Regions from separate parts of the Homo sapiens genome. Here region 2 is linked to region 1. Evidence: fine-mapped expression QTL. A gene starts in region 1. The other region holds a variant in brackets. All regions are shown on one strand. Distances are between the middles of the regions.

The links. PIP is the estimated chance that this variant, and not a neighbour inherited with it, causes the effect.
Region 2: its variant is the best candidate, but not a certain one, in a credible set for the expression of KCNK17 in transverse colon (GTEx, PIP 0.53).

What each region holds. Positions count from the first base shown.
Region 1 is chr6:39,306,989-39,321,675 of GRCh38, forward strand. KCNK17 (potassium two pore domain channel subfamily K member 17) reads right to left here and starts at 7,431. Exons shown (of 5, transcript NM_031460.4): 1 at 7,096-7,431; 2 at 3,905-4,019. The coding sequence starts at 7,332. It overlaps KCNK16 (potassium two pore domain channel subfamily K member 16), which reads right to left. Exons shown (of 5, transcript NM_001135106.2): 2 at 12,031-12,145; 3 at 10,798-10,964; 4 at 9,794-9,959; 5 at 9,183-9,454. The coding sequence ends at 9,231. It overlaps LOC105375047 (a long non-coding RNA gene), which reads left to right and starts at 6,968. Exons shown (of 3, transcript XR_926774.3): 1 at 6,968-7,236.
Region 2 is chr6:39,333,740-39,348,426 of GRCh38, forward strand. KIF6 (kinesin family member 6) reads right to left here. Exons shown (of 23, transcript NM_145027.6): 20 at 12,737-12,787; 21 at 11,961-12,050; 22 at 9,970-10,076; 23 at 1-2,809. The coding sequence ends at 2,793. LOC105375047 (a long non-coding RNA gene) reads left to right here. Exons shown (of 3, transcript XR_926774.3): 2 at 4,774-4,939; 3 at 8,900-8,962. Among named protein-coding and RNA genes, the nearest start is that of KCNK16, 18 kb to the left of the region's middle. RefSeq lists enhancers at 2,424-2,503, 5,780-6,281, 9,556-9,605, 9,588-10,425, 11,100-11,601. The variant A/G (reference allele first, on the strand shown) is at 6,516.

The DNA.
Region 1 (14,687 bases):
CCTGACCTTGTGATCTGCCTGCCTTGGCCTCCCAAAGTGCTGGGATTACAGGTGTGAGCCACCGTGCCCAGCTTGCTTGCTTCCTTCCTTCCTTCCTTCTGTCCTTCCTCTCTCTCTCTTTCTTTTGGCTTGACCTTTCTGAATGCTGCTTCCTCCTGTAAAATGGGGATGCTGACATCCACCTACAGTGGGGGGTAATGATGAAATGAGGAATGGAGGTACACTGTAGAAGGGAATGTGAGCTTGCAAGCATCTGGTATATACAAGGTGCTAAATGTTTGTTGAATAAATGAATGATAGAACTCCAGTGAACTGGCTTCTGGTCTGAGGACTTCAGAAGCCTCTTGAGTCCCCATCTACCTCCCCCTCTGGCCTTTATGGGTTTCCTCTTCCAAAGGAGAGTTCTCCTTTCTGTAGGCATCTAGGGCGAGGTAAACCTCTTACTTTCCACCCACCTCTCTGCCTGCCTCCTCACCAACCCCTCCTCCTCCAGCTGTAGGTCCTGCCAAGTTCCATCATCTGGTACTGGTTTTTCTTCCCCATTCAGTTTTCACCAGCGGGATGGGGACACTAAGATTCCAGCTCTGAGAGGAGCCCCATGGAGGCCTGCAGCGTTCTCAGGCTGACATTAAATGGGTTTTTTTCCTCCCCACTATTCTCAGCCATCCCTCAGGTCAGCAAAAGGATGTCACCTACCTGTTGAACGCTGGGTAGCCACAGCCCCACCCAAGCCACCTTTCACTTCAGCATGTCTCCTCACTGCCACTTTGCATCTTGTTGGGATCTCTGGGCATCCTGCAAGAACCCTACAAGTCTATCTGTGATTGGTCTTCTCTGTACTTTCTCTGAATGCAGCTCCTGTTTCCAACCCTCTCCACCTACCTGGACCTCCTTACTGCTCCCCAAACACACAAGTCACATTCCCATCTCAGGGCCTTTGCACTTGCTGGCAGAGGATTCTCTCCTCAGATATCATCAGTTTGCTCCATTATTTTACTCATGTCTCTGCTTCAATGTTACTGTATCAGCTTCAATGTTACTGAATGGACACCCCACCTACAATAGGTGCCCCCATCACTATGAGACCCCTTTAACTAGCTTTACTTTTCTCTAAGCACACCCCACTACCTGATTATTGTCCATGTATCTGTTTAGTGTGTGTCCCCTCACACTAGAATGTCAGCTCCCCAAGGGCTGGGACTTGCTAATTTTGATTACCATTGTATCCTCAGCACCAGTGTCTGGCCCACACTAGGTACATATGTATGTGTACATACACACACCAAGGTATGTATGTGTGTATGTATGTACTTATCTTTTGAGGCAGAGTCTTGCTCTATTGCCTAGGCTGAAGTGCAGTGGCACAATCTCGGCTCACTGCAACCTCCGCCTCCCAGGCTCAAGCGATTCTCGTGCTTCTGCCTCCCAAATAGCTGGGATTACAGGCACCCGCCACCACGTCTGGCTAATTTTCATATTTTTAGAAGAGATGGGGTTTCATCATGTTGGCCCGGCTGGTCTCCAACTCCTGGCCTCATGTGATCCACCTGCCTCGGCCTCCCAAAATGCTGGGATTATAGGCAAGAGCCACCATGCCCAGCCTTCAATTTATTTGTTGAACAAATGGATGGATGAATGAAAGAACCAATGAGCAAGCCAGGAATGGAGTTCATAGATGAGTGATTTCTGGGCTCAGGCCTGTCCTACTGGCCCAGAGGTATTTGTGTTAGGGCTTGGAAAGTACTGCCCTTGCAGGGTGCTGGTCCCAGGGTAATGGGTTTGCCGAAGAGGCTGCCCTCTGCTGAGCCTCTCAGAATATCCCTTCTTCCCTTGTGGCATTCCAGATGTACCTCATCTTCCATCTCCCTCTCCTTCTCTCTCCAAATACCTCCCATGTGTAAGTGCATACAGGTGTGGTCAGCATCACAGAACCCTCACTCCCCTCCTGTTCACTCCACAATGGCTAGTCAACTCTGCTTCTCACTAGCCGTATGATCTGGGGGAGATGGTGCAACATCTCTGTGCCACCGTGTCCCCATCTGTGTCATGAAAATAGGCTGGACACAGTGGCTCACACCTGTAATCCCAGCACTTTGGGAGGCCAAGGCGGGTGGATCACTTGAGGACAGGAGTTTGAGGCCAGCCTGGCCAACATGGTAAAACCTGTCTCTACTGAAATACAAAAATTAGCCGGGCATGTTGGCAAGTGCCTGTAGTCCCAGCTACTTGGGAGGCTGAGGTAGGAGAATCGCTTGAACCTGGGAGGCGGAGGTTTCAGTGAGCTGAGATCATGCCACTGCACTCCAGCCTGGGTGACACAGCGAGACTCCGTCTCAAAAAAGAAAGAAAGAAAATAATAAGACCTATTCTTGGAGGTTGCCATAGGGACAAATTGAAATCTTAAATGTCAAAGTGCCCAGCACAGTGCCTAGTACAAGAAGACCTCGGGTGTTTCCTCAGGTGTACTGTGTGTGTGGGGTGGGGCAGGGCCCTCCTCTCTTTGCCCTCCTCACCCTCAAGCTGGTTGAAACTGAGTGGAGAGGAAAGGACAGAGGCATAATCCAAGCTAGGGGTGGTAGAGCTGGGAAGAGAGGTAGCAAAACTCTGAATTTGGTGGGCCAAAGTCACAGGCCCTGAGAAGAGTGTGGGAGGTGTGGGGTTTGCAGACTAAAGGACCCCCAAATCTGGGAGGCCTGGCCTACAGTGACTGTGTTTTAAGATCTCCTGCTACCCTGGAACTCAATACATGCCTGGTGAATGCATATTTAATGGAATTCCTTAACGTGGCAGTATTTATTGAGTGGCTGCTGTATGCTGGGCCTTGTAATAGACCCTTGGGGATGTAAAGATGAATCGGCCCATCCTGCCAGTCCTTCAGGGGCTCAGGGCCGCTGGAGTCTGAGATGCCTCCCAAGCATGCTTGTCTCAAGGATTGCCCAAGCTCCCATGTAGCTCTGAGGTCTGCTTTCAAGAAGTTCTGGCCAATTTAAAACTAGATGGAGAATCCTCTGGGTGCTCTTGCCTTACCCAACCCTGTGGGGAGGCTGGGATACTGGTGTCCTGGAGAGAGGATCCTGGCTGGCCAGGAACTGGGAGGCGGTAGCCCAAGTCACCAGTGATACCAGCCTGCCACCTGGTGGCAAGTCCTGTGTCATGCAGGAGTTGGGGCAGAAGGATCTGGGTGGCTCGACTTGCATGATTTCCTGGGTTTCAGAACTGCAGGGATCTAGCCTGCTCTTCTTTGCACAGCAGCCCCTCAGCACCCTCCTGAGACAAGCTCTACCTCAGCTCTTCCGCAGAGGAGGGTTAGTCCAGGTGTCCCTGTGTGTGGGGAGGATGGCGATGAGGAGTGGAGGGGGCTGTTTGCAAGCTGAAGAGAGGACTGTGGGAATGGGGTCTGGAGACAAGGACATGGGAGGAATGGCCACCTCCCCCAGGGCTGAGAAACGGGGGGTCTAAAGCTCTTTCTTTGGATTTCTACTTCTTCTTCCTTCCTAACTTTCCCTCCACTTCTCCCGACCACCACTCCCGGGGCTCAGTGTTGGGTGGGCTCAGCTGAGGAGACTGGCATCCTTGTAGTGCCCAGAGACATGTTTCTTGCTGTACTGGGAGACCTCTGCTTCCTGAAAGGCCATGTGGGGCAGAAGTCCCCTAGAGCAGTGCTTGTCAAACTCGAACAGTGCACATGAATCCCCTGGGGACCTGGGTGAGATGCTGAGGCTGAGTCAGCAGGTCTGTAGTGAGGCCCGAGACTGCTCCCAGGCGGTGTCCATGCTGCAGAGCTGAACTGCACTTGGAGTCATGAGACTCCAGGTAATCCCTCCAAAAGGCAACTAGCCTGTTGCCTCTCAGGGAGCTGCCTCCTTCCCCCACCCCCATCCCCCTGGCCCCATCTGGCCCTTACCAATGGTGGTGATGGTGGACACAGAAAAGAAGAAGGAGCCCACGAGCTCCCAGCGCCCCATGCTGGTGGTGTTGCTGAGGAGGCTGGCTCCGTTTTTGTATGCTTGGACGACATCCTGGGGAAGAGGCTGCAATGACCACCAGGCTCTGTGGGGTGATGGATTTCCTGTACCCCAAGATGCACACACACACACACACACACACACACACACACACACACACACACACAAACAAACCTACACACACAGCCCTCACAATTACTCTTCGATCCCAGCCCACCAGGGCAAGGAGGCTCTACCCCTCTCACCAAGGGCTCACCAGGTACAGCTACTGACAGCTACCATGGGGACAGCTCCTTCCCCACCCTTTACCCAGTGGCTAGGTCAGGTTGGAGTCCTAGTAAACCAGCGACTCATTTTCTCCCCTGCTCACTCCCATTCCTGCAACAAACACTAGGCCAGGCGTGATGTGTGGTGCTTTTAGGGGACGTGACCACAAGAGACATGACCCCAGCCCTCAGTGGTACATAGATAAACCTAATTAACTCTAATATGATGCAGTCAATGTCACTTTGGGCATTAAGGAGGAAGTGCAGCTACACAATCCTGGGCAAGGTGCTCAACTTCTCTCTGTGCCTCAGTTTCCTTACCTGTATAATGGTAATACAAATAGTACCTACTTCATAGAGTTGTTGTGTTAAATAAGGTATTATGTGTAGACTTAGTACCTGGCACATGGTGTTAGCAGTTGCTATATTGCCTATATGCATTATATAGGCATATAATGTTGTAGGACTCTGGGGAAGAAGGATGTTCATTCTCATTTGGGTAGGAGCAGAGGCCTCATGGAGAATGGGATGTTTTAGCTGGGCCTTTGAGGGTCAGGTAGGATTGCTTCTGGTGGAAGGATGTTTAGGTAGATGGGACAGCAGTGCAGAAGGTGGGAGGTGAGACTGCCTGGGACCTAGATTAGGGAGACTGGTAAGAAGTGATTGAGGCCAAGCTGTGCTTGGCTTTGCCATGCCAGGGATGAAGTCGCAGGTATCAGCCAAGGTCACTGAGCAAAGGGGAAGTAGGATCAGGTTTGTGTGCTCTGTGGCAGCTGGCAGTATAGAAAGGGTTGACCAGAGGGGAGAGACTCCTGCAGAAGTGAGTGATAGACGGGCCCTGGCCTGTCTCCTGGCACAGGTGGTCCAGGAGGAACAGAGAGGAGATATTCAGAAGCCCAGGCCTCTGGCCCTATTTAGTATGGGCAGTAAAGGAGATGTTGCAGAGGATTGTGAGGGTGTGTGGACATGGGGCAGACAATCGAGATTTAGGACAGGTGGAGAAGCAGGGCTGGGAGGAGGAGGACCACTTGCTCTTGGCCTTGAGGAATTTCAGAAGTTGCATGTCCACATCTGGTGCTCAGAAAGATCTGGGCTGGATACCACATCCTTATTCCTGGAGTTGGCTGAAGCCACAGGAGTGTTGAGGAAGGGGGTGAGGTGGGGGTGGAGGGAGTTGAAGGGAAAGCCCAAAGAGATGACAGCCTGGCTGGGAATCTTGGGAAGCACCCACATCCACAGGTCCACACTGAGGCAGTATTTATGCTGGTTAACAGCTCCAGCTCCTGGCTATGTAGCCATGCATTCGTATGTAACCTCTCTGAGCCTGTTTCTTCACCTCTGAAACAGGATGATAAAAACAGTACCCACCTGTGAGGGTGAAACAGGATGATAAAAACAGTACCCACCTGTGAGGGAGGTGAGACAAATGAATACGGGTAAAGTACCAGCAACAGTGCTTGGCACACGATAAGTGCTGCACAGAGGCATTTACTGTTATTATAATCACCATCATAGCCATCTCCCTGGGCCCAGGCTGCTTGTAGTCGAAGTTCACCACCTTTGCAAGGGTAATGGCAGGCAGCCTCAGCACCAGGACCCAGCAGTCGGGCTGTATTTGCAGAAGTCCGCAGGTGGGGAGCTGGAGGAATCACTTTAGGTCCTTAGTAGAGATAGGCCTGGCCCTGGCTACCTCCTGACCTCACCGAATCGGCCTAGTCCGAGGGTTCAGAACACCACTTCCGCTCCGCGCTGGGTCCCTTCCCACCCTGGCACGGTTCCCTGCCACCTTCCGGGGATTGGCTTTGGACTGGAGACTCTGGACGGATAAGCCACCAGGACTGCAAGACGGGGATTCTGGGCTGGCGCGCAGCTGTCTGGACTCTGGGCTCTTGGACGAAGGGGTGGGGAACCAAGCCAGGACCCAGGACATCAATGCCTCCGCCAAATCGAGCAGCTGCCAGTCTGGCGTCGCTTCAGTCCTAAGATGCGCCACCCCTAGAACCCTCCCCGGCCTCCTCCGCCCTGCTAGGCCCCACCCTTGAGGAGCCTCTGCTCAGATTTACCTCTGAGTCCTCCCCTGAACCCTGCCTTCAGCCTTTCTGGGCAGCCGCGCGGCGGCGGCGCGCCCAGTCCTTGTGTCCGAAGACTCGGAGTAAAGCGGGTTCAGCCAGAGAGCGGCCCTGCGTCCGCCCTCCTCTCGAACCCGGGTCTGCGCACGTCGAGCCCCCTCTCTGCGTTGAGGGTGGCCCCGACCAGCACGCCTCGGGCCCAATCCACCCACCCTCCGGGACAAACGCGCCTTCCCCCAGGCTCCTACGGCCGCGCCCTCGCTCCTGCGCATCCTTAGACCCGGCGCCCCTGCCGTCCCAGCTCCCAGTTCGCAAACGTGCGCCCGGGTTCCCCCTCTGGAAGCGGCCAGGTGTGGCGTTTAGCTCTTTGCCACGGGTGCGGGTGCGACCAACCCCCAAGCAGGCTCAAACGCGCCCTTTCCCGGGTCAGGCCGGGCGGGGCCGGTTACGCGCGCGCCCCCTGCCGTAGTCGTCCTCGCCCCCAAATTTGGATGTGTCCCCAGGCATCTGCCTCCTCACCGGGCCAGCATGCCCTCTCGCCCCCAAGTAGGACTCAGCCCGGCTTCTCGCAGTCCTCTCGCTAGGGCGAGGGTCTTTTCCTCCGAGGTCCCCCAACCCTCTGGTCCCCGCGCAGGAACGCCCACCCCCGTTGTGCCCGCGTCTGCGTTCCCGACGTTTCCCTGAACAGGAAACACCTGACCAGGGCCTGAATAGGCCCCCTCGCCCTCGGCCCGTACACCCCGCGGCCCGCTACCCCATCCCGCCGCGCCCAGGCCGACGCCGCTCGCCCCTGACCCGGATCAGCGAGTCCAGCGCCGGGCGGTCCAGACACGTGAAGTTCTGCAACAGCTCCCACTTGTCGCGCTGGAAGCTGCGGCTGGAGTCCTGCGCCGCGCGGCCCTCCAGCGTCCAGAACACGCCGGTGCCCAGCGCCAGGTAAGCCAGGTAGGCGAGCAGCAGGAGCACGGTGCTGGGCACCGCGCAGCCCCGGACCCTGCCCTCGGGAGCCGCCCGGGCTCGCGGTCGGTACATAGCGGGAGAGGCGGGGAGCCGGCGCCGGGAGCGGTGGACTAGGACCCGGTGGGAGGGAAGGGCCAGGCGTCCAGCTCGTATCTCCTCTCGCAAACGCCTGCTGGTGCCCGGTTTCGCCGGGGAGGAGGAGTGTTGGGGAATGGGACAGCCTGGCCCCACCCAGCCCTGGGATCCAATCCCCGGGACAAAAAGAGGCTCTGAACTGTGGGCATCTGGCCCCGCCTCAAATGTGTGCGGGGTGCCCACCTGCTAGGCCTAGGCCAGGGAGAAGGAGGAAGCTGCTGGGTGACCGCAGGCGCTGAGGGAAGGGGCCCAGAGCCCCCTCACATTTCCTGAAATGAACAATGGGAGGGACTTCTGGAAACCGCACTCAGAGGTAGGAGATAGTAGAGACCAACTTTATTGTCTTGGGGCCCCTGCCTAAGTTCTTGGACTCGGGGGCTATCTCCAAGGACTTGCTGTCTGTCAATCTCAAGACCACCTTGGGTCTCCCACACCTCTGTCCTTTCCTTTGTACCCCAAAAGAGGGACCCCAGCTGATTGCCACTTGTCCATGAGCTTGGGAGGTAAGAGGAGCCTTAACCAAGAGGCTTGTCCACTCCTTGCTTCTGAGAAGGCCCCCGAAATCCCTCTACCTGGAGTGGAGGAAGCGTCTAGGCTGTGTGAAGAGTCCGTGGGTCCTCAGCTTCCCAGTCCTTTCTTGGATATGGGGAAGTCCTGGGGTGTGACTTGGACTCCTCTTGCTGCTGTAGAGCCTCTCCTGGGTCTCCTGCCTGGAGCCGCCTTGGCTCCACAGCCTTGCCTCAGACCTGTGCAGAGGAACCCAGCCACATAGGAGCCCACTTGCTGTTGGATGATGGGAGAGGCAAAGGCCAAAATTTCCAGGCCCCGGGATGGAGTGGTCTAAATCTCTCCTGGTCAGGGATGTTGCAGTCTGGCAGGGGAAAGGCCAGACCTGGAGAATGCATTCCTGAGAGAGGCCAGACGTTCATGGAGCTCACTTTCTGGAAGGATCCTGGGATCTGCTGGCTCTCTGGCTTCCCATGGGGTGTTTGGAAAGGCTCTTGAGAAGGCAGGAGCCCAGAGGGAGTGATGAAGTTAAGGGGGTGGCCTGTGAGGGTCAGGGGAGGCCATGTTCAGGAAAGTGGGTAGGACACCCAAGAGGTCCTAAGCTTTGTTCACAGACAGCCCTGGACTTCTAGGCAAGGGGAGCTGGCGAGCTTTGAGAGGCAGCTCGCCTGCCCCTCGGCTGAGAGCTTCCTGAGGGCAGAGATCCTCTTTTCACTAAGATTGTTCCAAAGTCTCTGCCCAGGTCTCCCCTCTCTTTGATGCTCCCTGCCAGCCATTCCCATGGGCTCTCATCAACCCTGGGGCTATTCCCATCATAGCATTTTGGGCACTGTGTTGGGGCTGCCTCTTTGCTTGCCTAGCAACTAAAGGCACATCAAGGGCAGGCACTTCCACTGCTGTATCCCCAGACCCTGGCACAGACCCTGGCACAGCACCTGGCACATAGTAGGGGCTTGGCAAATGCACTGTGCACATATCAAATGAGGCAAAAGTAAAGTCATCCTTTGTTTGTGTAAGGTCTCCTGGAAGGGGGCATGGGGAGGGCAGTGGAGATCTGGCCACTACCTTTGGGTGGAAGGCTGTGGCAGGGGCTCTGGGACAAGGGTACACCTCCCCATCCACACATGTCTTTAATCCTATCTCACGTCTCCTCTCTGTTACTTTCTTGGATATACCTGTCTCCTTTCTCTCTTGGGAGAGCTCCTGAGACCAGCCCTGGCTGAGAAGTGAGGGGGTTGGGAGAGGAGAAAGCAGGGCTGGAAATCCAGAGAGCAGATAGGGTGGGACTGGGGAGGATGAAAGGGGTTTCTGGGCCCCCCCCGGGGGCCTCATGCAGAGATGGGGATCTTCTGAGGCCTGGGGAGCCCACTGGGGTCAGAGGCTGCCCCATCCTTGACGCCGAGGCCCCTACTGAGCAGCCAGAGCTGGCAGCATCTGTGCAGAAGCAGGGGGCCCAGTGGGAGGATCAGCGCCAGCCACGCCAGGCCCAGGAGGATCCAGATGGCTGCCAGGCTCCGATACACTGAGATATAATGCTTGCTGGGGTCTGTGCCTGCCAGGGAAGGGAATGGCATCAATGCCAGGGGTCTCAGGGCATAGCCACCTCCAGTTTCCATAGGGACCCTCACCAGCCAGGATGCTCTCTCCCTCTTCCTCATAACAAGGAACAGCAGTTGAGGTAGGTCTCTGCAGGGTGGTGATGGGTCCTAGACCAGAAACTTCTGAGAATGTTGCTTAGAATCCACAGTAGTCCCAGAAATCATTGGTTTGGCTCCCTTGAATGACCAAGGGCTATCTTATCCTCAATAGTTGTCCTCAGCTGACATCTCTCCATCCCCCAAATCCCAGTGGGCACCCCCACCCTGAGATAATGTGACTGTTTTGTTCTCACCAACAACATAGTCCCCAAAGCCAATGGTGCTGAGAGTGATGAAAGCAAAGTAGAAGCCCTCGCTGAAGCTCCAGCCCTCCACATGGCTGAAGACCATGGGTGGGAAGATGAGAATGACCAGCGTCCCCAGGGTCAGGAACAGAGCCAGGCCCAGGACTTGCAGTACCTAGGAGGGAGGGAGTTGGCCTCTGAGTCCACTTGAAAGTCTCCAGGATTGTATGAGGTTGGGGGGAGTCTGGGGTAAACATGGGAATGGGACTGGGCCATAGCTAGGACCCTTTCCTGCACTGCAGACCCTCGAGGTGGAGGTTGTATCTATGTGTGCATGACCTTGTCCCACCCAGGGAAAGATTTCGGCAGAGGGATTGCGTTAGTGGGTCAAGAAGCGATTTGGAGACCCCTTTGGACTTGGGGATCACACTTGAACAGGCTCCCTGGGGACTCAGATCTGGAACAGAAAAGTATCATTGAACTGTCTGCGTATTTCTGGCCTTGCAAGTGGCTGGCCAAGGGTGGGCACTGAGGGCATGCTGGGCAGCCTGCAGAGCTTGTTTGCTACTGCACAAAAGGATGTTGGAGTTCTGTGATGACCTTGAAGATGTGCTACAGAGATCCCTCACTTAAAGGAGGACGGTGGGCCAGCTGCCAGCTCCTTCAGGGTGTTCAGCTGCAGAGAACCTCCTGGCCTAGGGGCATACCCTTCCTGGGAAGGCCACACCCAGTGCCTGATTGAGGCAGGTATGAAAACCTGGCTGGTTCCGCCCACTGTGGGACAACTCTGACAGCTCTCACATGCTGTAGAGCTCCTTGGGGCCAAGCCTTTGTAGAGCATGCATAGAGATCCAACTCCCCACTCTGCCCAACCCTGCCTTCACCCTTCCTCTTTCACAGGCATCTACCCCTAACACCATGCATGCCAAACTCCATCTCAGCATCGGCTTCTGGGGAACTCCACTTGCAACAGATCTGTCACAGCAGGCCTGTAAGGGAGTTAGGGGGCATACCTGGGAGCGCCTGGGACGGTCCTCCCATCTTTCAATGGCGGCCAGATGGGCACGCAGCCCTGTGCCCAGGTGGTTGAGGAAGATCACGTTAAGCGGGATGCCCAACAGGGCATAGAAGACACAGAAGACCTGACCTGCCTCTGTGCTGGGTGCCAGGTTCCCATATCCTGCAAGGGAAGGGGGGCGTGTGCAAATATGGAGACTCTAGAACGCCCTCTGCTCCTCTTCCCCAGACTCTAGCTGAGGTTTGTCTGTCACCACCTCTGGGGGTGAGAAGGGGAAGCTCCCCTGTTCCCATGAACTCTGCTGGAATGATTTTTATTTATAGGACTCCTGCTCATCTTTGAAGGCCCATCTCAAATGACTCTGCCTCCATGAAGCCCTCCTGACTGCCGATTTCCTTCTCCCTTCTGGGTGTGGTTCCCCATAGTGTTTTATGTCATTGCTATGTAATTATCGACTTTGTTTTCTATTACTTTTTTTTGTGTATTTATCATGTTCCTCTTTGTTGGACTGGAAGTTCCTTGCAGGCTGAGCCTGGGTCTGATCCAAGTTTGTATCTCTCACCCCCAACTCCATCACTCTGCCTGGAATGTCACCTGAGTTCAAGGAAAGTATGTGGAATTGGACTTAACTGAATGGATGGGGTAGACCTGGATCTGATGGTTTCCTTGGGGTGGGATGGAGTGAGTTTTCTGGCCGAGGGGGTGTAGCAGCTGCTGTCAGTGCCCTGTTCCCTCAGAACACATGAGATACCACCTGAAGCTTTGGTGGACAGTTCCTGTATACAAATCAACCCCCGCTCCCAGTTTCTGCACATCTCTCTCTACCTGAGAGATTCTTCTGGCCAAAGGAGTATGCTTGGTCTATGGGAAGTTTCAAAATGCTGGGGAACTAATATACTCGGGACCAGCTCTCAACCTTTGAGGGCAGGAGTTGGTAGCTAAATGGCCCCTCATTCTTGTCCCTCGCTGGACCGTTCTGAGGAAGGGCTCTATCTAGCCTCTCAGAGGGTCCCAAGGAGAAGTGAGCTCAGTCACCCAAGCCAGTAATCTGCTAATTAATGCAAATTTCATTGCCACCTTCTCCCTACTGTTTCACTTACCCACTCCCTCCCTGGGCTTCCTGAATAATCTCCTAGACAAACCACATCCTTGTCTCAGCATCTGCTTTTGGGGAGCCCAAACTAAGACAGGGGCCTTGGGGAAGCTCTTCTCTACCCCAGCCCTTTACCTATGGTAGTGACGACTGTGCCTGCAAAGAAGAAACTGCTGCCAAAGTCCCAGTTGCTGGGGTTGGTAGAGTTGCCTTTGGGGTTCACACCTTTCACCCAGGCTTCCATGATGACCTGTAGGGGGTGGCATGGCAGGGGAGGAAGAAGGAGCTGATGGTTACTGGGCACCAGTTGTTGCCATGCTTTTGGCAGCATGCTTTTGTGTCATCTCATCTAATGATACTCTTAGATGATATTGTTCCCATTTCATGGAAAAAGGAAATGAAGACTCAGAGTGGCTAAGTGACCTGTGCAAGGTGACTGGACTCCAACTCCAGTGTCTGTTCCACTGTCTGTTCCACTGGCCAGGGCTGACTGAGGTGTGGGCTGCAAGCATGGGCTGGGGCGGGAGATGGGCCTGAGGGGTGAGGTGGAGGATGCTCAGGGAGGGGTCCCGTGGGAGATGCTGCTGGTGGCCAAAAGGATGGCACCCACATCAGCTGTTAGAACAATGGGAGGATTTCAGGTTGGGTATGTCTGGAAGGGATTGCTGGGGAACACAGGGTTTAGGGACCACAGGGAAGCCATGGGCTGCCTGCTATGAAGCTAATGGTGGGAAAGAGAGCCCTGTGTTCCCTAAGTGTCCAGGCGAGTGGGCACCCTTGCTCTTTGCTGCTCTCTAGTGAGCCTCAGCCCTTGCCTATGGGAGAAATTCTAACAGAGGCCAAGACAAAGGTGGCACGTGTGAGTGTGTGTGTGTGTGTGTGTGTGTGTGTGGTGGTTGTTTATATGTGATGTGTTGTATGCACGTGTTGTGCATGGCAACTGTATGTTGCACATGTGTGCATGTTTGTATGTGTGTTGCATGTGTTTTCACAAGACCCGAACCTTTGCCGGCTCAAGCCTACAACACCTCCCTTCGCTGCCCCACTGCTGACAACCTCCAGTCCCTGGGCCCAGCCGCCTTGGAGAATAGGCAGGGCTCTCTCCTCCCCTGCCCCAACCCTCTCCTCTTTAATTGTGGACTGTCTCAGAGCAGCAGCACAGCCTTGCCACCGAAGAGCCCCAAAGGCAGGAGGAAGCCAGGGACACAACAGTTCTGGCTTCCAATTCCTATGGGAACCAGTTCCCGCTGGCTGGGTGGGTGTGCTTAGATCAGGGCTGGGGTGGCCCTGGTGGGCCAAGCCAGTCAGGGCATCTGCGGTCACAGGCTGTCTGCTTCTCCTCACTTTGACGGGAACTGGCCTCTTAAGATGTGGACTTTGGCCTCCCTTTCTTTCCCACATCCACAAAGTGGCCAGGGCCCAACATTCCCGAACATGCTCGTTCTCTGGAGACCCTCACTTCTGGGGGCAGTACTCTAGTCCTGGGCCATCCCCCACTGCCAGCCTGCAGCCCTCATCCTGCTGAGGGTGCTGAGTGCCGGTGGGCGGATGCAGGTGGCCATGGGTTCTGACTTCCCAGTTTTGTGAACCTGGGCAAGCAGTGTTTCGTCACAGAGGCAATGTTTAATACTGCTTTTAATACTAGTTACTCAACTCGCCCTGTGCGTCTGAGAGTTCAACAGGAATGTGTCTTCTTCCAGAATCTCACCCCAGTGTTCTTCTGCCACCCAGCTCAACTGCCCCTGGCAAGGAAGGGTCTCTCCTGAGGCTGAGGACTCTCAGGGAAAGGGATGTCCTGTCTTCCCTGGGGAGGCCCCAGGGGCTAATCAGTGGCAATCCCTTCGGGGCTGCAATCAAGCGGATGGCCTCCTTTCGTCTTGGTTAGCAGAGCGAGTTAGGTTGCAGCTACCAACCCTTCCCACGCCCTCCAGCTTGGCTCTCACCTCCAATGCAGAGCTGAGGGAGGAGATTTCAGCTTCTCCAGGGCCTCTGCCTTACTCCCAGGGTTTTGGGAGGCCCCTGAACTGTTCTCAACCCTGATGTGGTACTATGGTCCCCCAACTTTGACTAACCTTATCCATCAGGGAGAAGAGAGTAAAACCTGAAGCTGGAGGCCTCACTTCCTGGTCTCTCACAGCTACAGAATGTTGTCTGTGACCACCCAGCCCACGCATCATCTTCTAGGCCAGCTGTTCTCAGTCTTCAGGGTCCTCAACATCACCTGGAGAGCCTGTTGACACACAGCCTGCAGGACCCATCCCTAGAGTTCCTGAGTCGGCAGGTGCGGAGTGGGGCTTGACATCTCCAGTTCTAACAGGCTCCCAGGTGATGCTGATTCTGGTCCCGGGACTACACTTTGAGAACTGCTGCTTCAGGTTGCATCCTGCCCCCAGCACTTATGCTAATTTGTGTGGTGAAGACCCGGGGCTCCAGAGCCAGAGGCCTGGGAGTGAATGCTGTCTCTACCAGTAGCTGTGCAGCCTTGGTCAACATATTCTACCTCAGTTCCCATCTACAAAGTGGAGATAGGGATTGTAATAGGTAATTATGAGAAAACACCTGTAACACGCTCAGTGTCAGGTGATGAGTGGATCATGATTGGATTAAGCTGGTCATGACCACCCTGCTTCCCACTGTTTTAGGCACATTGTGAATGCTCAGTAAATGCCAGTTATCAAGGTGATTTGGCACTTGGTCTGTTCCTTTGCAGGGGATGTTGTCACTCGCTCCAGTGCCTATTTCAGATGCATTCACCTCCCTCCACAACACCTGGTTTTGTCTTGTTTCTGGGA
Region 2 (14,687 bases), 27 kb after region 1:
TTAACTTCCCTCCTCCAACCTCCGTCCACCCTACTTCTTGTCAAGGGATTGGTAGAGCCAGTTGAATTCTAGCAGGGACTGGGCTGGAGTCACTGGCTAGGCTGCTTTCCAGAAAATGTTTTTGAAAATCCCACATTTTGGCCTAGAGTGAACTCAGATACTTCTTGTCATCCGTGGCTCCACTGATCCCAGGTGGATTGCTGGAAAGTCTTTTCAAAACATTGCATCAATTTCTCCCATTTGCAGAGGCCAGTGAACTCTGGGAAGGTGCACTGCTGTCAAGCATGTGTCCATATCAAAGGCTGGGCTTCCATTAGGGGATGTTCGGAGCAAAAGGCCCCTTGGCCAGTTGCTGCACACACTTTGCATATGCTCTGGACACCAGTGGCCCCAGATCCCATGTTGTGTGTTTTTCTGTCTTCATTTCCTTTCCTGTCTTAGTGATTGCCCCAGGAGGCTGGTTCACACCCCGCATGGGGCCATGCCACACATCTCTGTCAGTAAGGCCTTTGGATCCAGGAGATGATGTCTCAGTGGGAGATCTAATGTTGAAAGACTCTGGCAGGGTATGTGGCTCATGCCTGCAATCCCAGCACTTTGGGAGGCCAAGGCGGGAGCATCGCTTAAGGCCAGGAATTTGAGACCATCCTGAGCCACACAGTGAGACCCTGTCTCTACAAAAAATTTAAAACGAGCTAGGTGTGGTGGTGCATGCCTGTAGTTCCAGCTACTTTGGAGGCTGAGGTGAGAGGATCGCTTGAGCCCAGGAGTTGGAGGCTGAGTATGGCTTGAGCCCAGGAGTTGGAGGCTGACTAGTGAGGTATGGTCGCACCACTGCACCCCAGCCTGGCTGACAGAGACCCCCCCCATCTCAAAAAATAAATAAAAGAAAGTAAAAATAAAAGAAAATAAAAGTTAGTAGACTCTACCCAGCTCTAGAGGGCTGAGGGCACTAAGGCATGCCAAGAATACTGCTGCTGCTACATAGGGGACTGGGGCAAATGCCATGCCATCTTCAGGGCTCTTGAGAGTGTGTGTGTGTATGTGTGTGTGTGTGTGCAGTTACATGTGTGTTCCATGGACTCTTGGGGAGGCTTCTAGAATCAGAATTTGGTCTTCCTCTGGTTCTACAGACTTTACAGAGGGCTTACTATGTTCCATTGAACTGTGAGGGCCAGGAGTGGACCAGAGATGCTGGCCCCTGTCCCGATGGGATTCAGTCAGAGCCTGGGGGAAGTCAGAGTGACACCAGCCTGAGAAACACATCTGGGTTCTGGCTCGTCTACTCATGAACTGAAGGACCGTTTACTGAACAGCGACTCTGTGCTTGGGACACAGCAATGAGCAAGACAAACAGGTCCCTGTTGCATTGGAGCTCTTAGTATTATGGGGGGTTGCAGGTATTTCAAAAATAGGCAAGTTCGGAAGGATAACATGTCAGATAGTGATGCAGAAAAAATGGTAATGGGATAGGGGATAACTAGGGGGTGACTCGAGATGGAGTGGTCAGGGGAAGCCCCCTGAAGAGGGGACATTTGTCAGTGGCATAGAACAGCAAGCTGAATCTCCCCTTCACTCTGGCCTTCTAATTATATAAAATAGGGGTGTGGATTAGAGGAGCTCGATGGGCCTGCCTAGCTTAGAAATGTAATGGTTTAATCTTCTCCTGCATGATCCTGTTACCCAGTCCTAAAAAACGAAAAAGAAAATCAAGCCAATTATACTATATTACCACTCTGCTCCCCTCCAGGGTCATCAGGTCCTGTATTTATAGGACAGAGACACCAGGAGCAGTGGACCAGCACTTTTATCCAGTTAGCTTCATTTCCAGGTGCCACTCCTGCTCACCCTCCGCTGCCCCTCCCTGGCTGCAGCTGGGTTGGAACCCCCTGGCCCAGGGGGCAGTTCTTCAAGAACCTCCTTGAGGGCTGCCCACCTTCCCTTGGATCTGTCATGGAGAGGGCCCATGGAGACAAGACCCCCAGGCAGCTATGTTTTTCCCTGTGGAAGTGGGGAGTGTCAGCCCAAATCCTCCCAAGTGGCTGGGTGAAGGTTGTGAGGCCCAAGGTACCCACACTGCCCTCTCTCAAGCTCTCAGCAGAGCCCCTGGGAGCTGCCCACTGTTCTCTGGGTGCTATGATGTCCTTAGACCCTGCAGGGCAGATGGCTCCCTGGAGACACAGCTGTTCAGGCACTGCCTCCAGGTCATCCTGGCCAAGAGGCTGATGGTGAAAGATGTGGTCTGGGAGATCAGGATTGGCCTTCAGGATGCCCTGCATTCCACTGCCTTGCCTGTGGCTGGGACATCCTGCCTGGACCTGTCATGGCCATTTCTGGGCTTCCAAACCAGAGCACGGGCCAAGGGAGAGAGCTGGCAAATCGTTAAAAATAAAAATATTCCCCCCACATTCCACTGGTGTGAGCATCCTCTGACATTATATTTTGATGGTGCTATTTCACATTCTCAAAAGCTTATAAAGATCTACACAAAACGTCACTACAACAGTGAGCTGAAGCCTTCACCCTGCCCCTAGCACTCTGGCCTTGCCTGGCCCTGCCAGCAGCTCCAGCAACCACAGGAAGGATGTTGTGGTCAGCCCCAGCCCCAGCCTCTCGGTGGCCTCCAGGTCAGCATCCTTAAAGAAACACAGTCCCCTCCATGGGAATCAAAGTCACTAGTTGCTCCCAGCAGCCCATAGTTCACTTCTGAAGCCAGAGCAAGTGAGGGGCGCTGCCTTCATCTGTGCTTCATTCTTGCTGGCATAATTCATGGATGGATATTTCCTGGAAATTCAATTGCTTCCCAAACCTGAAAGGGAGACAGGATGCTTTTGGTTAGGCTGTGCATGCAGACACTGACTTTTCCCAGGATTGAATCGGGGGGAGGGGAGGCCACCAGCCACTCCCCCTGGGTCTTGGGCACTGCATCTGTGTCTTGCCTCCCAGGAGCTGCATTTATACCCCAAGCTCTGAAGGAAGAGGCCCCCTTTGCCCTTTGCAGAAGCTCCATCTCCCTAGGCTGAGACTGACGCCTGTTTTCCTACCCCACCGTTTTCTTTCCTTTTCTTTCTTTCTTTTTTTTGATGGAGTCTCGCTCTGTCACCGAGGCTGGAGTCTTGTCTTTTCCTTCCTTCCTTTCTTCTGTCCTTCCTTCCCTTCCTTCCCTTTCTTCCCTTTCTTCCCTTTCTCTTCTTTCTTTCTTTTTCTTTCTCTTTCTTCTCTTTCATTCTTTCTCTCTTTCTCTCCCCTTCTTTCCTTCCTTTCTTCCCTCCCTCCCTCCCTTCCTTCCTTTCTTTTCCTTCCTTCCTTTTTCTTTCTTTCTTTCTTTCTCTTTCCTTTCTTTCCTTCTTTCCTTTCTTTCTTCTTTCTTCTCTTTCTTTCTTTCTTTCCTCCTTCCTTCCTTCCTTTCTCTTTCTTTTCTTTCTTTCCTTCCTTCTTTCTTTCTTTCTTTCTTTCTTTCTTTCTTTCTTTCTTTCTTTCTTTCTTTCTTTCTTTCTTTTTCTTTCTTTTCTTTCCCTCCCTCCCTCCAGCCTCCCCTCCCTTCCCCTCTTCCTTCCTTCCTTCCTTCTTTCTTTTTCTTTCTTTTCTTTCTGGACGGAGTCTTGCTCTGTTACCCAGGCTGGAGTGCAGTGGCACAATCTCGGCTCACTGCAACCTCTGCCTCCGGGGTTCAAGTGATTCTCCTGCCTCAGCCTCCCAAGTATCTGGAATTACAGGCACCCACCACCACGTCTGGCTAATTTTTGTATTTTTACTAGAGATGGGGTTTCACCATGTTGTCCAGGCTGGTCTCAAATTCCTGAGCTTAAGTGATCCTTCACCTCAGCCTCCCAAAGTGCTGGGATTACAGGTGTGAGCTACCACACCTGGACAACCCCATGGTTTTCATTGATGCTCCTACCTAATCCTCAGATTCTCTCCTTGCTTTTTCCTCCAGATATTAATTATATTCCAGGATGGCTCCTCCTGACCATGTGGCCCCTATCCTGTCATCTCCCATGGCTGGGCATGGAGAGGGTTCTCTGGATTGAGAACCAGGGCCCTTGCGTTCTAGCCAGGACAGTCCCCAACCCACGGTGTGACTTTGGGCAAGTCATGTCAGTTCTCTGGGCCTAACATTTCTCTTTGCTGGAGCAGATGAGATACCTGGAAAAAGCAAGGTGGCTTCTTGCTTCACAAAATGTGGTCCATGGACCAGCAGTGCTGGCATTTCCAGGGAGCTTGTTAAGAAAGGCAGAGTCTAAGACATGGTCCACCCTGGACTTACTGGATCAGAATCTACAGTTTGACAAAACCTGTCGATTCATTAGCACATTAAAATGTGAGAACTGGTAAGAGTGATATGCAGTTATTTTGCTTAAAGTTTGGCTAATTTAGTAAGAGCAAGAGAGAATTTCTGAGATTCTTGGATGAAGTAATAAATACAATGTTTAAAAAAATTTCAGTGGACAGAGAGCCTGAGGGGTGAGGCTGCTCAGGGAACAGGTGAGCAGGCAGCTGCAGCCCTCCAGGTTCGGCCACAGGAACCTGGTACTGGGTGACGAGTGTTAGCTTGGTTGGCTTGATATTGCTGTGGAAGAAAGGGTAATTCTTGGTGATACATTGAATGGCCAGCTAGTGCGGAGGAAGAGATTGGAAATAATTCACGGCTGTGAGCCCTTGGTCTTTCAGTTCTAATTCTGTGTGCAAGACCTCTGGCAGGCCTTGCTGTTTAATTAAACAAATATGGTCCTTATTTTTAAGACATTCTGATCTGTCTGAATTGAATTCTAGAACGGGAAGTAAGAAGACAAGTACACCGAGCCTATGATGGTCATGTGTTCCTGTCACTCTGGACTTGTGGTTCCCAGCTCTGCTACACAACGGAAATCTCTGGAGAATCTCTAGACATCCTGGTGCCCAGACCACAGCCCAGAACCATTCAGTCAGGATCACTGGGGTGGGTCCAGGTGATTCTGAGGCATGGCCATGGCTGAAACTCACTGCTTTTGTCTCTCTAGTACAAGGACTGGCAGGGCAAGAGCTGGGGGCCCGTGGGCACGTGGCTGCTGATGAGATCTGGGCTCTGATGTTTCTGCTGCACTGTTGAAATGCAGCCTGGGCCAGGATTGTGAACGCTGCCGGTGGTAGGGAGCATGGAGTCTGAGCCATCTCCCACCCAGGATGGTCTCTGAGCCCCTCACACACTTGCATGCAGTAATGACAGGGGGTGGGTGGGGTGGGGCCTGGGAAGAAATGCTACAGAATAGGGGGGAGAGCACGCTCTGCCCCAAGACATAGCTCCTTACATGCACAGACCTCAACACAAAAGGCACCATTTCAAACTCATTCACTTTATGGGCCCCAGTTAAGTGATGAAGCTCTGTCTGTATTGGGGTTTTGATTACCGTGGGCTCCCAGAAAGGAGGGCACACTACAGATGTACCATTAAGAAAAAGCAAAATCACACCTCATGGTGTTGGGCCAGCTCTCACCACAGAGGCCACTTCCCTGTTAATAATTCCTTGGTGCTTGGGAGTTGATAAGGGACTTTAATGGAGATTATCTGGGAAAGGATCAGAGCCTGGGCAAGGGTGGAATCTGTACATGACAGACAGTGAGAGGGAGGCTTGGGGAGGTGACCTGCCCAGTGTCACGCAGAGCAGAGATGGCCTTGGAATTTCCGCCTTTTCCCTCCCAGCTCGGGGCTCTTTCTCTTTCCCTGGGAGGGTTTCTGAACACAGAAGAGAGCTGGAGGGTTTCTCTGAGTGGGGCTGGAGGGCTGGGAGAGGCAGGACCTCTTCCTAACACCTCTTGGAGAAGACAGACTTGTGGTTATGGGGGTCGCACCATGGTTCCTTTCCAGATGGGAATACTTCCAAACTCAGGGATTAAGCAAGATTAAAAACAAAAAGGCCCTCTAGAAAGGGGTTAACCTCATTTCCTCAGACATAAAAACTGTCCTTGGCAGTTGGAAACAGCAGAGTTGACTCCACGGATGACTGATGCCCCTTACGGGTGTTATATACCTGTCCACGCCTGCCCCTGGCAGGGATTTAAACATTCCATGCTGTTCCATGAATCCTAAATCAAATAGATTCATCCTGGCCCTTGGTGAAGCCTAAGAGCTGGCGAGGCTTATGTTAAATTGCCCTCTCTGGGCTCCTGCTCCTGAGCTGACAGTCACAAATTCCCCTTAATGAGCACTCCTGAAGTAACCAAGGCAGCGCTGTGAGCTAAATTAAGATTCGAGAGCCCAGGCAGGGAGAGGGAGGTGTTTGCTTTGGCTGAGAAGGTGCCTGGGCCCCGGCCTGTGTGTTTGCCTGGGTGCCCTGATAAGTGGGCTGCATATTAAGTGCCACATGGTGGGACCAGAACCATCTGCTGTATGTCTGAGAGGTCACGCCTGCTGGCCCTTTGGGACCTGGTGGCAGAGGGACCCCGTGTCAACCTGTCTTTGGCTTCCTTTGTGGCCCCGTGGTCACTGAAAAGCCAGAATGAATATTCTTCCTTTCGGAATAAAAATTGAGCTGTGG[A/G]AGTTTTGTTTGCTTTGATGAATTACTTCCAGGCTGCTGTTTATTTGGAGAGCAAAGCTCCCCAGCTGCAGGGTGGGTAGAGGCTGCGGTCACTCCCCTCGTCAATGCTGGTTCCTGTTCCTGAGGCCGAGAGAACTCCTGACAGCAGAGTGGGCATATCTTGGTAGTTGCAGCTTTTCAAGACAGTGTGGCCCAGTGGGGAGAGAGCAGAAAACCTGGGTTATGCTGGCTCTGCCATTTATCAGCTGTGTAACCTTGGGCAAGTGATACAACCTCTGTGTGCCTCAGTTTCCTTTCCTCACCTGTCCACAGGGGATCATAATCTTGGCCCTGCATGCCTTACAGGAGCGTTAAGAGCATCAAATGAAACAATAAAAATGAAAACATTTATAAATGGTAGTTTGCCATACATATTTTAATAAAAGTGCCTGCCCTTCAATCCAGCTCTCTGCACTGCCTGGGGACAGTGTTAGCAGGAGGACACCACTCTGACAGGGACCTGGACTTCCGCCTCTTCTGTTTGGAGAGAGTTAGATGATCACATCTCTTATATGTACAAAAGCTTAGTGAATGTAACTTAAAGATATTGCTTGCTTGTAGGCTTCTTGAGGGGAGGAATGATGGTTGGTTTCTATGGATTTGTTACAGGGGAAGGGATATCTCAGCTCAAAGGATATCCTGCGTATCCAAGCCTTCCTCCACTTGTGCCCCACACACTGTCCCCTCTACTTTCTCAAGGAAGTTTTTCCTGCAGCTCTGCTCCCCTCTCCCACCACAGCATCAGTTTCCCTCTCTATGCATGTTTCAGCACGTGAGCATGTCTTAAAGCATCCCTCTGGGCTCCTGCTTCCCTTTAGCTCCAGCCCAGTTCTCTGCTCCTGTCACTGCTCAACCCCCTGGAGGGGTTGTATCTGCTCACTGCCTCAGCCTCTTTCCCTTCCACCCTCTCCCCAGCCACTCCCAGTCCCCTGGCTAAATGGTGCTTGTCCATGATCACCCTGACATGCAAAATGGCCAGTGGTCCACATTCCATCCTGCCACACTCTACTGGCCCGTCTCCCCTTGGAGCTTGTGCTTCTCCAGCTTGTGCTTCTCCAGCTTGTGCCTGAGGCCATACCCACTTATCTGCTGTTCCTTTTCGCACCCTGGCAGTGCCTTCTCAGCATCTCTGCTTCCTCTCTCTCCGCAACTGTTGGAGAACCCCAGGGGGCTGTTCTCAGCAATTTGAATACCTCCATCTCTGGTCTTCAGAGGACATTGTACTCAGTCCTGTGGCTTCAGACACCAACCAGACATGATGACTTGCATATTTCTTTTTCTAGCTTAGACTTTCTCTCTGAGCTCCACTGATGCTCACCTGTCTACTCGACACCTCCTCTTGGACATCAAATGTCATCTGAAACTTCAAAAAGGGCAGCCAGAACTCTCCATCCCTCCAGCTCCTTGCCTCTGATGGTCATGCCTCCCTGCCTTTCTCATTTCAGTAAATGGCACTGCCATTCTCTTCGCTGCTCAGATCAAAAGCCCAGGAGGTGCCCTGACTCTCCTCTTTCTCTTGCATCTCATATTTGGTCTACTGGTGAGTCCAAGCCACAATCATCCCTTGCTGGCACTTTCATGGTAGCCTGGTAACTGGTCTACCCTTGGCCCCTACAATCTACACTACATGTGACAGACAAAGTGAGCTTTTTAAAGCATCAATCACATCATATCACTCCATGGTTAAAATTATTCAGTGGGCTTCCACTCTATCCAGAATAAAATCCAAATCTCTTTCCCCTGTGCATAAGGCTGGTGTGACTTGGCCCTTGTGCTCTTGCTCCCTGCCCTCCAGCCACTCTAGCTTCCTTCCCACCCTGTGGCCAAGCAAAGCTTCCCCTTCAGGCTTCTCGCTTTCCGCTCTGTCTGCTAGGACTGTGCATTCCCAGAACGCGGCGTAGCTGCTCCATTCTCATGATGCAGCTGTCAGTTTAAAGTTATCTTCTCCAGCAAGGCCTCCCCAACCTACCCAGCTAAAAGCAGTCTTCCCAGTTACTGTCTACAACATTACATAGTTTAGCTATTTCATAGCACTTATTATCCCCTCAAACAATCTTACGTATTTGTCGACGTGTTCATTGTCTGTCTCCTTCCTCCCCCTAGAATGTCAGTTTCTCACGTGCTGGGTTCTGTCTTGTTCTCTGCTGTAGCACCAGCACTAGTAGTAGTGCCTGGCATAAGAAGGCACCCAACATATACAGTGTTTGCTGACTGATTGGCTGTTCATTGCTGTTCAGTGCCTGATACCTATCATCAGAGTATTTGGGGCATAGATGGGGACTTGGAGATCACTGAATCCAGTTTTTTATTTTTTTTTATTTTTTTTTATTTTTTTTTATTTTTAGACAAGGAAACTGAGAATGAGACAAGATCACAGCAGAGGTGGGGCTGTCTCAGGCTTAAGAAAGGACCTGACAGTGTTGCTGAGGCTGCTGGTCCTGGTGGTGAAGAGAGGATAGTAAATAAGCAGGCTGGCGGCCAAGCAAGGCGAGTACAGGACCAAGGCCGGCTCTCAGTTGCGGCGCTCCATCCATGCACAAACCTCTTCCTGCCCAAACTGCACACGGCTGGTGGAGAAGCTGAGTGCAGGCGCCACAGGGCAGGCATCAGTCATTATACATCGAATCTGCCAGCCCATACCATCACGGTGGGGGCGCCTTTCTGGCAATGTGAAGGCAATGTTAAGCCTGCCTAGTAGCCTTTGGGTTATGGGGAGGAGGCTAAGACAAAATGCAGGCCTGGGGTAAGGGGCCCTGGGGCTTGCCCTGTGGGTGTGTTGGGGATGGAAGGCAGAAAGAGAAAAGGCCCAGCCACAGCAGATGGGAGATGGGCAGCTGCCAAGAGGACGGGGCTGGGGGTGGAGGGGGCAGTGATGCAGACCAAGAAGAGCCTTCTTCTCTTCCTGTTGTCTGACACGCCACTCTTACTTCCTCTGTGATTGTTATGGTGTCCTCGGGCCTGGGCCTTCAAGCAGTGTTTACACTCACAGCTCTTTGGCAAGAACCACACTCTGATAGGGGAGTGAGACTTTAAGCCAGGGGTTCAACGAGTTACCAAAACATCACTCAGCCCCTTCCTGTTTGTAGAAGCCTGAGCAGAGGAGACAGCTGACTTTGGGAACAGAGAACAAAGGAGCTGAAGATCTGGAAGAGACAGAGAGCAAGCTCTGCCAAGAGGGACAGGAGCACCTGGGCCGCCCACCCACTTGGGCCTGTCTTGGTGTTTCTGATGCTGCCCCTTGAGGCTTTCTCGAGAAGGAATCAGAGGCTGGGCACATGTGACTGACAGGCAGGCCAGTCCTGTGGCTTCAGGAATATGCAGGAAACTCCCTACTCCCCTCCCACCTCACTGTGTGCTCCCCACAAGTGTTGGTGACCTGCTGCCCAGGAGGAGCCACCGAGGGAGGTGCACTTACATTGCTTCTGCAGAATGCTCTGTCTGGCCTTGATGAAGGCGATGATGTCCGAGTCCGTCTGGCTGTCTCCGGTGAGAGGGATGGACGACACTGGCCTCTTGGGGATGCTGGAGGCAACCACGTGTCACATTTTACTACACTTTACAACTGGACTCACCACTTATATTTCCAAAATGCTTTTCCATTTTAGGTGACTGATCTCACTCAGAAAGCTACATGACACGGCTGGCCTGCTTCTCACTCCCTCCTACCTTCTCTGTGTGGCAGCCACACTAAGCCTCTTGTCATGCAAATTGGGTCAAGTCATTCCCTGCCATAGACCCTGATATGGTTTGGCTGTGTCCTCACCCAAATCTCATCTTGAACTGTAGCTCCCATAATTTCCACGTGTTGTGGGAGGGACCAGGTGGGAGATAACTGAATCATGGGGACGGTTTCCTCCATACTGTTCTCGTGGTAGTGAATAAGTCTCATGAGATCTGATGTTTTCATACGAGGTTTCCCCTCTCACTTGGCTTTCATTCTGTCTTGGCTGCCACCATGTAAGACGTGCCTTTCACCATGATTGTGAGGCCTCCCCAGTGACATGAACTGTGAGTCCATTAAATCTCTTTTTCTTTATAAATTACCCAGTCTCAGGTATGTCTTTATCAGAAGTGTGAAAACAGACTAATACAGACCCTTTAGTGGCTTTTCACCACTCATGGAATAAAACTTAAACTCTGTCCCATGACCTACCAGGCTGTGTATGATATGACCCCGGGTCAGGGGCTCCAGCTGCCCCCTTTTCTTTCAGTGACTTGCATTTACCAAGCCACTTCCAGCCTCAGGGCCTTTGCTCTGATGCTTCCTCTCCCTGGACTGCCCTCCCCACCACCCGTCACATGGCGGCTGTGCTTTCTCTCGCTGCCTTCTCTATCCTCTTACCACCACCACTCTTGTCCTCCCATCCCTGATTTACCCAAACCAGCACCCCTTAACCTGGGGCCCATCAACTTCTGTGCCCAGCTTAGATGTCATATCATTCAGTGCTGTGTCCTCAGAGCACCCTCATTCCCCACGTGGCTTAGCTAGTTGACCTCAAGGCAGAGATTACTGTTCTCCTGTCTCTCCTTAAAAACAGAATCATATTTAGCTAAGTTGCCACAACTAAAAAAACTACCTTTCCCAGACTCCTTTGCTGCGATGTGTGGCCGGGTGACCAGGTGCTGGCCAATGAGATTTGTAAGTAGAAGTGTTGTGTGGGAATCTCCTTAGAAAGGGAGGGCTGTGTGTGCCCTCCCCCATCCCCTTTTCCATCCAGCTTCTCCATATAGCATTCCCCTTCAGCAAACTCAGAGCAGTACACTTGCCTGGCCTTGCCAACTTTCCGTCCATCCTCACCCCTGTGCCTCTGCACAGCAGGAGGTGGTAGCCACTTCCTTAGAAGGCAGTAAGGACGGTATGTAACAAGGGGCTGGCCATTCCCGCAGGTAGTTTGGGTGTTGGCTTTCCCGCTGCAGGCCAGCCGGAAGCACTAAAGCAGAGTCCAGGCAGGCAGGGCAGAGGCTGTGCTGGTGAAAGAGGCTGAGCAGCCATTCTAGCCGGAGGATACAAATGCCCATGGTGCTGATCAACTCTGGTAAGCCTGGAAGCAAATGCTGCTGGGTCTTCAGGCCAGGCTTGTCAGCTCCCTGCTCTGCTCTGTGGTGGGGCTGCCCTGGGCTGGCTCTTTCCCTTTCTGGCCCCCAGGTACGTCTATTCACAAGAAGATATGAAACAACTCTGCCCAACACAGGGCCCTGGTGACTGTGGGAGAAAACCTCCCCGCTTTGAGTTGGCCTGTGTGAGAGATTCCAGGGAATTCCCAGGGGACCAGGGCAGAGGCCAGACCTGGGTTCTGTCTGTGTGGCTACTGGACGAGGGGCTTTTTCGGGGAGTAGACTGGAGATGGAGGCCCACTCCGCCCACTGCAGGGGCTGTCACAGGCATAACAGGAGAAGACCACAGACCTGTCTTCCAGTGGGGTGCTGGTGCTGCTCTGTTTCTGGCTGTGTGGACTGGGGCAAGGCGAGGGCAGGATTTTCCTGGCATTCACATCACTGCAAAACACAAACAAACAAAAGCAAAAGGAATGGGGGCAAATTTATAGAAGGAAATTCAGGGTTTATATCTAGGAGCTGTTATGGACTGAATGTGTCCTCTCAAAATCCCTATGTGGACACCCTAATTCCCAGTGTGATGGCATTGGGCAGTGGGGCCTTTGGGAGGTGAATAGATTTAGATGAGGTCCTGAGGGTAGGGCCCCTGCACTGGGATTAGTGTCCTTATAGGTATAAGAGGAGGATGAGAAACTACAGTGCTCTCTCTCTCTCTCTCTCTCTCTCTCTCTCTCTCTCCCCCCCCTCTCCCTCCCCCCCTCCCTCTCCCTCTCCCTCCCTCTCCCTCTCTCTCTCTCTCTCTCTCTCTCTCTCTTTCTCTCCTATGTGAGCACACAATAAGAAGGAGGTGCCAGCAAGCGAGGAAGGAAGCCCTCAGCAGGAACTAAATCTGCTGTGCTACGGACTGGAGGTTTGTGTCCCTGAAAAGTCATGTGTTGAACCTAATCTCCAATGTAATGGTAGTAGAGGTGGGGCCTTTGGGTGGTGATTAAGTCATGAAGGTAGAACTCTCATGAATGGGATTAGAGTCCTTATAAAAGAGACATTGGAGAGCTCCCTTGCCCCTTCCACCATGTGAGGATGCGTCGAGAAGACAGCTGTCTATGAACCGGGAAGGGGGTCCTCACCAGACATCGAATCTGCCAGTGCCTTGATCTTGGACTTCCCAGCCTCCAGAACTGTGAAAAATAAACGTTTGTTGTTTGAGCCACTCAGTCTATAGTATTTTGTTATAGCAGCCTGAGCAGACTAAGACAAGAGCCAAGAGTCCTGTCTTGGATGGTTTACACAGTAATTTTCTTTTTTTCTTTTTTTTTGAGATGGAGTTTCACTCTTGTTGCCCAAGCTGGAGTGCAGTGGCATGATCTTGGCTCACTGCAACCTCCGCTTCCTGGGTTTGAGCAATCCTTCTGCCTCAGCCATCCAAGTAGCTGGGATTACAAGCATGCATCACAACACCTGGCTAATTTTTTGTATTTTTAGTAGAGATGGGGTTTCACCATATTGGCCAGGCTGGTCTTGAACTCCTGACCTCAGGTGATCCACCCACCTTGGCCTCCCAAAGTGCTGGGATTACAGGCGTGAGCCACTGTGCCCGGCCTACACAGTAATTTTCATTGTTAGAGCATGCATCTGTTGGCTGTAGCAGCTGAACAACAAACGATGGCCACAACTGTCATTGATAGACACGCCAGGCTTCGTGAAAGTGCTCTGCAAATATCATGCCATTTAATCCTCTCAATGACCTAAGAGGTAGATGTCATCGTCTCCATTTTATACATGAGAAAACTGAGGCTTAGACAGATTAAAGAAATTCTAAAGTTATCCAGCTGGTAAGTGGCAGAATCGGGAACTACTCAGGATTCTTTGAGGCTTCAGAACCTGTGCTCTCAGCCACAATGCCTTCTAACTGGGCTTGACTCTGTGGCATTCTAGGAACACACGCTGGCCTACCCCTGACCACACTGCCTGCCCCTGGGACCTAGCTTCATGCTGAGAGAGGAGTCAGATCCAACAGCTCATTAGATGCAGCTGTGCCTGCTCACCTAGGCTGCTGACATGTGCGCCTTGCCTTGGATTCCTGGCCAAGTGCAGTGGAACCCAGAAGCTCCTCTTGGGAGGTGAAGAGGCGCGTGGACACGGCTGGTTGGAGGCCAGTGTATTCCACATGCCTGTGGTTACAAGGTCCTTACTCTAAGTTGTGCTGTAAGGAGATCTTCCTCGCTTCCTGCCTGGAGACAACCTCAGAGCTGGAAGAGGCCTAAGAAGTCACCTGGGTACAACCCTCCTTTTACACTCTGGGGACACTTGGGCTGAGAGGCAGGCTAGGGTTAGAGACAGGTGAGCCGGCTCCGCGGAGTCTGCATCTTCAGTCCAAGGTACTCTACAGACCTGACAAACTGCGTGTCTCACTCATGAGTATGGCCCCTTCCCCGGCTCTGGCCTTCCGCCTTCCGATCTCAGCCAATGGCAAGGCTGCTTCCATAGGTCACGACTGTGGTCAAACAAGCAAGAAAAGACACCAGAGCCTGGGGAAGCCCCCCCTCACCCACCAATGTCCATTTCCTAGCAGTGGAGAGACTTTCCACGAGGTGCCCTTCATGGTGGGAAAGCAGAGATCCCTGTGCTGGGTCTAGTGAGGACCGATGTAGGACCAGAGGTAGCCACCAGGTGGCAGGCTCTGCACGCTTTTCTTCAGAGAACAGTAACCAATTCTCAAGGCTCCTGCTGAGTGGTTCCTGGTGCAGCCTGGAGAAGGGAAGGAGAAAGGGCTTTCCATCCTGCAAGTGCTTTCATGACAACGGGTCAAGGTCAGTTTGGAAGCTGTAGCAAATTTGCAAGACCAAGGCACTGGCACAAAAATGGCTCATTCACTCAGTGGCTTCCCAGTGGAGCCTTGGCTCAGGTTCCAGGGAGAGTTCACAGGTGCCAAACTATTGAAAGGTGGGAGGGGGTGGAAGAGGATGGAGAGATGGATGGGGCAGGGTAGAAGGGCACGATCACACCGTGGCCAATAGGGGCATCTAGTACTCTTTGCGGAGGCCCAGCTGCCCCACCTCATGCAGGAGGGCAGTGCAA